2 separate regions of the Homo sapiens genome follow, and region 1 is linked to region 2. The links come from fine-mapping of genetic effects on gene expression. A gene starts in region 2. The other region holds a variant in brackets. All regions are shown on one strand. Distances are between the middles of the regions.

Region 1 (4,389 bases), 25 kb before region 2:
TCCGTGCACCTTCCCACCACATGGCTCCTCCTTCCATGCTTTTCCTCATCTCCTTGTAGTGGAGGCACTTCAGTTCAGTTTACAGCAACCGACTAGAGACGACACTTGGACCTAAGTGTTAATGGAGGTGAACTAAAGCAAAATATAGCTTCAATTTGGAACCTGCCCCTGGATCCTTTACCTGACGTTAAGACACCGGTATACAAGCTGTGGTTAGGAATTCATTTGCTCACAGAAAAAGTACATTGGGATAATGGAAAAGTAATTACTCTGTATCTTTGGTTTCGTATTTTGCCTGCACTGTATATCTGACTGTGCATTGAACTGGTGTTCTAACCAAATGGTAAAACTATGATGCAGAAACCAGGGTGAGAAGAGGTTGAGATGTCAAGATTCTTCTCTTCATCCTCAATAGTCCTCCCTTTGCAAGAGGCCAGCTGCTGAGCACGGGCTACCAATAGTAAGGTCCAAGACGTACAGAAGCTTCCTCTCCGCTGAGCAATGCAGTTGAGTGACCAGGTTTCTTAGGCTACACCGTCACTGATTACAAGTGAGAGCAACGTGCCATACAATTCACTTTCAGTAACCACAAAACGAAAAATATATCAATAAAACAAAATACTGTGTTAGCCCCTGCTCCCATGTATAGGTAGAGCTAAAAAGCTTTAAGTAAAAATATGTAAAGATATATCAACTTCCACAACCACATACCAGGTTGATAATAACCTTAAAACTCTTGCTGCCAAGTTGCCTATATTCTGGAAGTTAGGATGGCTGGTATCAGACAGGAACATCCTCCAGACATGCTCAGCTCTTCCATTGGAACCCCCCAGGCCCTGAGTTATAGGGAAGTACTATTAATTGGTGGCCTAGGTGATAAGCAAATTGCCTGTGTGTCACAAGCTCAGGGCTAAGAGTCATTTTATTTGGTTATTATTTTATTCCTCTTGATTTTAAAAGTGCAGAAGCACATTACACAAGATTTTCAAACGCAGAGAAACAGAAAGTAATCGTGAGCCCTCCCCCAGCCCAGTGAGGCTGGCTGCGTGGTGTGGGCCTGGGCGCTTCACTGAGGGATGCTCGGTGCGAGAGGCTGGGCTCCTGTTGCAGACCCGCCTTTTCCCCCTCCCATGTCTGCTTCACCCCTCCCACCACGGAGGGAAACCTCCAGACAGAGCTTCCTGACACCAAGCTCTAAGACGAGAGTGAACACCTCCATCTCCCCTCTTCCCGTCACCGCAGGGCCAAGGAACAGATCTTGTCTAAACTTCACGTGCACGCTGGCACTTCTAACATCATTTCCGTCGTGGCCACCCACCATAATGGAAATCATCACTTGCAAAATTACCAGGACACCTTATTCGTATAGAGAAAGAAGGGTTAACATTTCCGAGAACTATGAAACCATAGATGGGAAGGAAAAACCACCCTACTTTTAAAATAAAAATGTTCTGGTGGGAAAAGGAAATATAAACTGTAATTGGTATTTTTACCATCCTTTACAGACCTAAAGTCTGTGTGAGCTCAGGAACAAAATCGTATATTATATAGGCTGTATTCTCATAAAATATCATGTTTAGTATGTTACATTTAAAAGCATGTTCTGGCCAGGCGCAGTGGCTCATGCCTGTAGTCCCCACACCTTGGGAGGCCAAGGTGAAAGGATGACTTGAGGCCAAGAGTTCAAAGACCAATCTGGGCAACATAGCAAGACCCTGTCTCTAAAACAACTTTTTAAAAAACTTAGCCAAGCAGGGTGGTGCATGCCTACAGTCCCAGCCACTCAGGAGGCTGAGGATCACTTGAGCTCAGGAGTTTCTCAAGGCTGCAGTAAACTATGATTGCACCACTATACTGAAGCGTGGGTGACAGAGCGAGACCCTGTCTCTAAAAAACTAAATAAAATCAACAATTAAATTAATTTGAAAAGCATGTTCTGACGATATGTAGTTTAGTTGAGGAGTTAATAATTTAAAATTCTTCTCTGCTCTCCTCTGCAGACGTGAAGGACCAGGACGATCCAGGCCTCAGGTTTCCCTCCTCCTAAAACCCGTGGCTTGCTTTGACTTCTCTCCTGACTTGAGCCCTGTGACTATAGTCGGCAAGTCCACACTCTCCTTCTGGGTGATCTCATCAACAAGGGGGCCCTCAACCACGACCTACACTGATGACTCCTCAGCTGACACCTCAAGGCCAGAACCCTCTCAAGCTCCAGCTCTGACTCCTTCTGGACACTTCTGCCTGAAGATAGAGTGATGCACACGTGTGTGTGAATATGATACATGAAGTTCGCATGGTCATCTTGCCTCTAATCCTCTTCCCACACCCCTCACCTCTATGAAAGCACCACCGTGCAGCCATCAATCTACAAATCTTGGTGTATCTTTGACTGATTCCATATTTTTTGCCCTCTACATTGAATCAATCATCAAATCCTGCCTATTCGAATATCTGCAGATATAGGACATTAAATATCTTCTAAATATCCACACATTCACCTCCATTGTCACCTCCTTG[G/C]TTTGGGCCTAAGTGGTGTTTTCTGGACTCCGGCAACAACCTCAACTGGTTTATCCATCACTCTCATCACTCCGCATCCCATTCCTCTTCTTTATGTCTGAGTGATCCTTCCAAAGTGCAGATTTGATCACCTCACATCCCTGCTAAACTCCTGTAGTGGATCTCCATTGTCTTTGGGATCTGGCCTCCAGATACTTCTTTGGCCCCCTCTTATCCCTGAGCCCCCACCCCCAACTCTTGTACTGCAGCCCTACTGAACTATTTGTGGTTTCTTGAACACTGCACACTTTCGCCTGCTTCCAAGCCTTTTCCCGAGCCACTCTATCTTCATGGAACACCTCCCCCATCTTCTTTAACTGGCTTTACTTCTACTTCTACCCTTCCAAACTCAGCTCAGTGATACTTCCTCCAGGAAACACCCCTTATCACCACCACCAGAATACCAAGCTGGGCTGGGGGCTCCACCTACACTCTAGCAGAGCATCCCTTCTGCTTACTGTGATCATGGCACTTACGAGAAGGTTTTGCAAGCATCTGTTTACTTGACCCCCTTCTCCATTAGACCGTGAGCTCCTTGCAGTCAGGGACTGTGCCGTTCATCTGAGTATCCCCAGCACCTAGCACAACACCTGGCACAGAGTCGGCCCTCAAGGAATGTGCCGAATGGGGAACTTTCCAATACTCAACAGCAGCAGTTCTAAAAGTGTGGTCCACAGACCCCTGAGTCCCTGAGACCCCTTCAGGAAGTCCCTGAGGTCAGAATTACGTCCTTAACAATGCCAAGCTCTAATTTCCTTTGTCGTTGTGTGACACCTGCACTAATGCTGCGGGAGCCATGGTGGCGGCACCTGGGCTGCCTCAGCACCAGCCGGGACAGGCACCACGTCGCTGTGCTCTTCTTCACTGCCACCTACAAGAAAGATGCCAAGTTCATATACAAAGGCCTTTGATGACGCTGTAAACAATATTAATTTTATTAAAGCTCAACCCTTGAGTACAGGTCTCTTTATGAAGCACTTTTGCTGCACACCAGCCAAACTGAGCACTGTGCAGTCAAGCTGTGAGCTTCTTCTGAGGGAACATCATTTTCACTTGAAAGAACAACTGATGGACAAACCAGGGTTCTTCACACCTGAGTGTTCTATAATCATTTTCTCAAAAAAATGAATGTAGTAAGCCCGTCACTCCAGGAAAAACAACAGCATTTGCTGCCAAGGATAAATTTGAGCTTTCCAGAAAAAAAAGAAAGAACTTTGGAAAACTTGTACCAGCCTCTGTAAGCCTGACAGCTCCCCAACACCTACATGCTGTTTTGATGACATTGGGGGTTGATATTAACCCATGTGCTTTTTTGATATTGTATAATGAAATATGTCACATTTGGAAGGTCTGCATAACTCAGAGAATCAATGTTCTCAAGGAATCAAAGCACGGTGTTACAAAATCAAGCCTGGGAGAACAGCCATTTAAACGCAAGACAGACCAAAAAGCTTGAGAACTGCTAACCTACGTGCCAAAGTGAAGGACATGGAGTAGGAAGATGTCAGCCACACACAGCTCCATCCAAATGGACTCCTCCCTTCTCTGAGGCATCTGCCATGCCTCTGGCAGTTAGAAATGGATCTTACACTTGGATGTGACAGCTGTACCATTCTGGCTTAGGCCTTCTTCATTTCAAATGAAACATGCAACTTTCAAAGTTGGACCAAACTAAGAAGCAATGTGGGTCAGAAGAAGACCTATGGACCAGGAATCCCACTGTCACCAGGCGAGCTGAGTGAAGCATCCATCCAGCCTCTAAGCTCCTGATGTCCTTATCTGTAGCACGAGGCCTATCTGCCTACAGACAGACTGTGGTTGTGGGAATCAAAT
Region 2 (4,389 bases):
GTATGAGTTCATGTATTATGCTGCTGTCTTGCCATTGTAATGTAAGTCTCTCATTTAAAAAGAAAAAATTGTTTGCCAATGTAGCTAATGAAATATCCAAATGTTTAATTTAGTTCCTAGTGAAATGGCATTTCTGTGATCCACTGCTTTAATTGAATCATCATAGTAATTAACTGACTTGTATTCATTTATATCTTCACTTAATGAAAGCCTCTTAAAATGTTTCACATCAAAACATCTGTTGCCTAAGACATCACCAGTTAACATTGACTTCTGCCCCATAGGCCACTCTTGCTTTAAACTTTATTCATTAGACAACCTAAAAAAAAAATAACAAATACAGAGCTGAGAACTTTTTGAGAAAAGTAATTCAATAGTTATAAAGTGATCTTATTGTTTGATTCTAGTTAAGGTGGTTTTTCTTTAAACCAATACTTCTACAAAATATAAGAGTTGGTTTTTACTTTCTTCTGGACATCACCACCAGTAAAATACCATGCCAATATCTCTAGGCTGGCAATTAAAAGGAAAATGCAGAAAACGAAAACATTCATGAACAGACGTGTAGGTCAACTTCATGACTAAACTGCTATTTAGGAACAGTATGACCAGGCCCCAAACAACTGCTCCAATAAAAATATCTAGGCTCATTTTCATATCGCAAATCAAGCTGTCAATAATACGCCCACAGATTAAATTTGTAAGACCTGATGCCTCAAAGTCATTTAATACAAATTTCAGCCACATATCTTTCCAACTAAGCATAGGGAGAATTCTACCATAAGCATATAACTACTTTTTAGATCAAAAACAATAATTCAAATATGATTGATTATAAGTCAATTAAGGAACCTATTCAAAATGTTAATTGAGGAATCTATTTAACCTACTGGAGAGCAAAACCGTTCCCATGACTCTATACTATAAAGTATTCCAGGGACCACCAGCATACCAAATACATTCTACCTGCCCTCAACACCTTCTGAGGCTCAAAAACACAGGTGTTCTGCTCTTGGAAACTGGCGTTAAATTCAGAGAAAAAGCAGAAACTTTCTTTAATTCCACTGAAGAGGGAATTACTAAATTCATGAAGGCCCACAAATGGTTCAGATGTAAAGTATAAGCTGCAAAAGCTATCAGAGTATACATTCTACCATGAACAAGATGATAAATTTCACCAGAGATAAAAAATACCACTACAGAGGATGAATCAACACACTCATTACTCTTTACTGCTACAGTGACAAACAGGTGTCGAATAACAAGAAAACTTTCCCTAAATCACAATACAATAGCAAAATAAATTGCTCCAGTTGTCAAAGGGTCTAGAATTCAAAATTATTCCGACTGCACTTAAGCAAATTCTATCAAATACACATTTTTTTTTCCCATTAACAAACTTTTGGGGCCCTTTGATGGAGCAATAAATCCAACATGTAAAAAAAAAAAAAAGTGTGGTTAACTTTTGTGCGTGAATTATCACACATCATGTTCTGATAAAATATTCAGTGTGCTATGAAAATCTTTTTCAACCCTGCCAATGAGACTGAAATCTTTCAAGCATGTAGGATTTCATATTTTTAAAAAGATGCCATATTGGTGGATATGAATGTTTCCTTCCTGTAAAATTGCAAAAACAAAAAAAGAAAAAAGAATCCATTATCCCATAAACAAAATAAGAAGCAACACTGAGGCCAGGTCCACTTTGGCTTTCCATTTAAAAAGCTCTAGATTGTATTAAATTGTGATGATTTCATTAAAGTAGACCTGAATGGGTTCTGGGGGTCCAAACACTGCGTGCATCCTCGCAGGAGGGTTTTGTTATTAAAGGATTTGTTTCCCGAGTTCTTCATCCAGTCATTTCCAAACAGATGTGGGTCGGGAAGCAAAAAAGCAACACGTTCCCCGGAACGCGGAGGCTGCCCGGGCCTCCCCGCCGCCCTGTGCCCCACGCGCCTCCGCCCGGGCGCGCTCCGCGGGTGCTGGAGCCGGCGGGGTCCGCGCGCCAGTGCCGGGAGCCGGGGTGGCGGCGGGGAGCCCGGGGCGGCCCGGAGCGAGGCGCGGCCCCGCGGCTCCAACACAATGCGCCGGCGGCGGGAACGGGGACCGCGCGCCCCTCCGCAACAACTTTGCGCGGCCTCGCCCGCGGCCGCCGGGCCTCGGCCCCTCGGCTTGGTCCCCGCCGTCGCCGTCGCCGCCGCCCGCCACCAGCCGCTCGCCGCCCCGGCCCCGCGCGGCCGCCCCTCACCGTTGCAGAACTGGAGCAGCGAGGACGTGTCGTACAGGCTGCTGTAGCTGGAGAAGCCGTCCTCCATGCTGAGGCCGCCGGGCCGCGCCCGCTCCCCGGCCCGGCCGCGCCGCCGCCGCTCACCACACACTGAGCTGAGCCCGACCGCGACCGGCGCTGGCGCTGGGGCCGGCCCTGCTGTGGCGGCTGCTGCTGCCGGTTACCATGGCAACCCCGGGCCCGCCGCCGCCGCCGCAGCCGCGCGAGCCCAGCGCCCGCTCCGCCCGCGAGGGGGCGGCCTCGGCGGCCGCGGGGCCCGGGCCGGGAGGGGGACGTGGCGGGGCGGGGCCGAGCCTCCCCGCGCCTGCGGCCTCTTTCCCCGCGGGGAGCGCGGCCCGGGCGGCCTGGGAGCCGCAGGGGCGCGTCTGCCGCCCGCTGTCCCCTTGGCCAGGCCCCGCCTCCGCGCACGGGGGCTCAGGGGCTGCGGGGCGCGGCGGGCGGCCCTTGCGGGGGCGCGGGGACAAAGACCAAGGCCGGGAGAGAGCGGGCGCGTGGGGCCCGGGGTAACCTCCGCCACGGACACCCAAGCCCACCCGCCCCCGACGCGCTGTTCCCGCGCCCGCGGGCAGCTCCACGACCAAACATGGACAACGCGCCCGCACATTTCGGCCGTTTCCACGCCGCGGCTCACTGTGGCCCACATCCGACCGGCGCGTTCCTCTGTCCACACGTTTTTCCGCGGCAGCAAGGCCCTGCCTCAGTGAGACTTAGCACGGGACTGGCAAGTCAGCTCGAACCTTCGCTCACACTGGGCCAGAGAGGCTATCCTGGTACCAGGCTGGAAGTCCCCCGTGTTGAGGACTCGACGCAGCTAAAACATCGCTTTGTGGTTTCTCTATGATCAGCCCCTGGGATACAGATCTGTCACGTTACAGGCTTGTTAACTTGCTACAGGACTAAGGAAATCAGTATTTATTCTACATCAGAAAGACACCAAGAGTTAGGAGAAAATAGCGCAGTCGGAGAAACACATAGATCTATGAGTTTGTAACTTTTCCAGGCCATACACGTATAAATGCTGTTAATGGTTCGCATTTTATACCCATGGAGTAAAGTAAGTAAAGATGCGCCAAATAACGAGTGGGAAGCAATAAATTAGAATATATAAAATGGATCATCTAACCCAAGAATGAGCTTGGTCCCAAAGAGACTGCAGAACGTTTACACTTCCTGTTGCATCAGTCATAATTCAGTTCCATGCCAAAATCTGAAATGGTAGGTACTAACTTGTGCAGGTTGAATAGAGTAGGTGAAATAAGAACTGAGTAAGTTAAAATTAGGAAAACTCGTAGGTCTCGCTTGGGCTCAGAGGCCTGTCCTTCCAGAAGCCCAGCTTGGACATCAGTAGATGGCAGGTGAGGGACAGGGCTCTGTCACTCTGCGTGCGGCACGGTTAGTGCATGGGTTAGTAAGGACTGGTGCTATATGCTGTGGGCAGAGGGAGAAGTTTAAGAGCTTATTCCTGTCCTAGCAGGATTGTTAATTGGGAAGATACATTGTGAGTGAAGGCTGAAGGGCCACAGGTGCTGCGGGTTTGACTGTGACTTGGTGGATGGAGGACAGTGGGCAGGACACTGCTAGTGAGGAAAGAAGGAACGGTGCCTGCAGACATTGTGCAGACAAGTGGGAAATAAGACTGGACTGAGGGCAAGGGGCCAGGTAAGAGAGGCCCCAAGAGCTGCAGAGGAGCCTGAACCAGACTTGGGGGGAGATGGAGGAACGCTTGGAGGGTTCACGCAGGCAGGCCACTGTTGAGAGCTGTGTTAGGGAGCTGGGTCTGCCTGCCGACTGGGCTGCAGGGGCCGCGGCCTGTTGCTGGAACAGCCCAGGATGTCTGCAGTGCTCCAGAAATGAGGCACCAAGGGCCGGCCAGAGGGAAGTTGCTATAGGACCATACAGCTGGAAAGACAGGAAGGTCAAGCGGGGACAGCACAACCTCCAATTAGAAGTGCCCTGTAGCAACTGGAGAGAAAGAATTGAGATTTGGGAGTTGTCAGCAAAGGGGTTGTAGATGAAGTCTCTAAAGAAGAGAATAGAAAATCGGACAGGGGCTGGGGTACAGCCTTGACAAAGGAGAGAGAAGGACATTCCGAAGGAATGGT

Which allele goes with the higher level. Positions count from the first base shown, and alleles are read on the strand shown. Sizes are in standard deviations (SD) of each study's normalised expression.
In carriers of allele G in region 1, the expression in esophagus mucosa of the gene that starts at base 2,379 in region 2 tends to be higher than with C alone (small effect, 0.32 SD a copy in GTEx).

The links. PIP is the estimated chance that this variant, and not a neighbour inherited with it, causes the effect.
Region 1: its variant is the best candidate, but not a certain one, in a credible set for the expression of EML1 in esophagus mucosa (GTEx, PIP 0.59).

The regions. Positions count from the first base shown.
Region 1 is chr14:99,816,471-99,820,859 of GRCh38, reverse strand. All of the region lies in intron 1 of EML1 (EMAP like 1), which reads right to left. Among named protein-coding and RNA genes, the nearest start is that of EML1, 25 kb to the right of the region's middle. The variant G/C (reference allele first, on the strand shown) is at 2,518.
Region 2 is chr14:99,791,403-99,795,791 of GRCh38, reverse strand. It overlaps EML1 (EMAP like 1), which reads right to left and starts at 2,379. Exons shown (of 22, transcript NM_004434.3): 1 at 2,249-2,379. The coding sequence starts at 2,315. RefSeq lists an enhancer at 1,627-2,458 and a silencer at 2,206-2,685.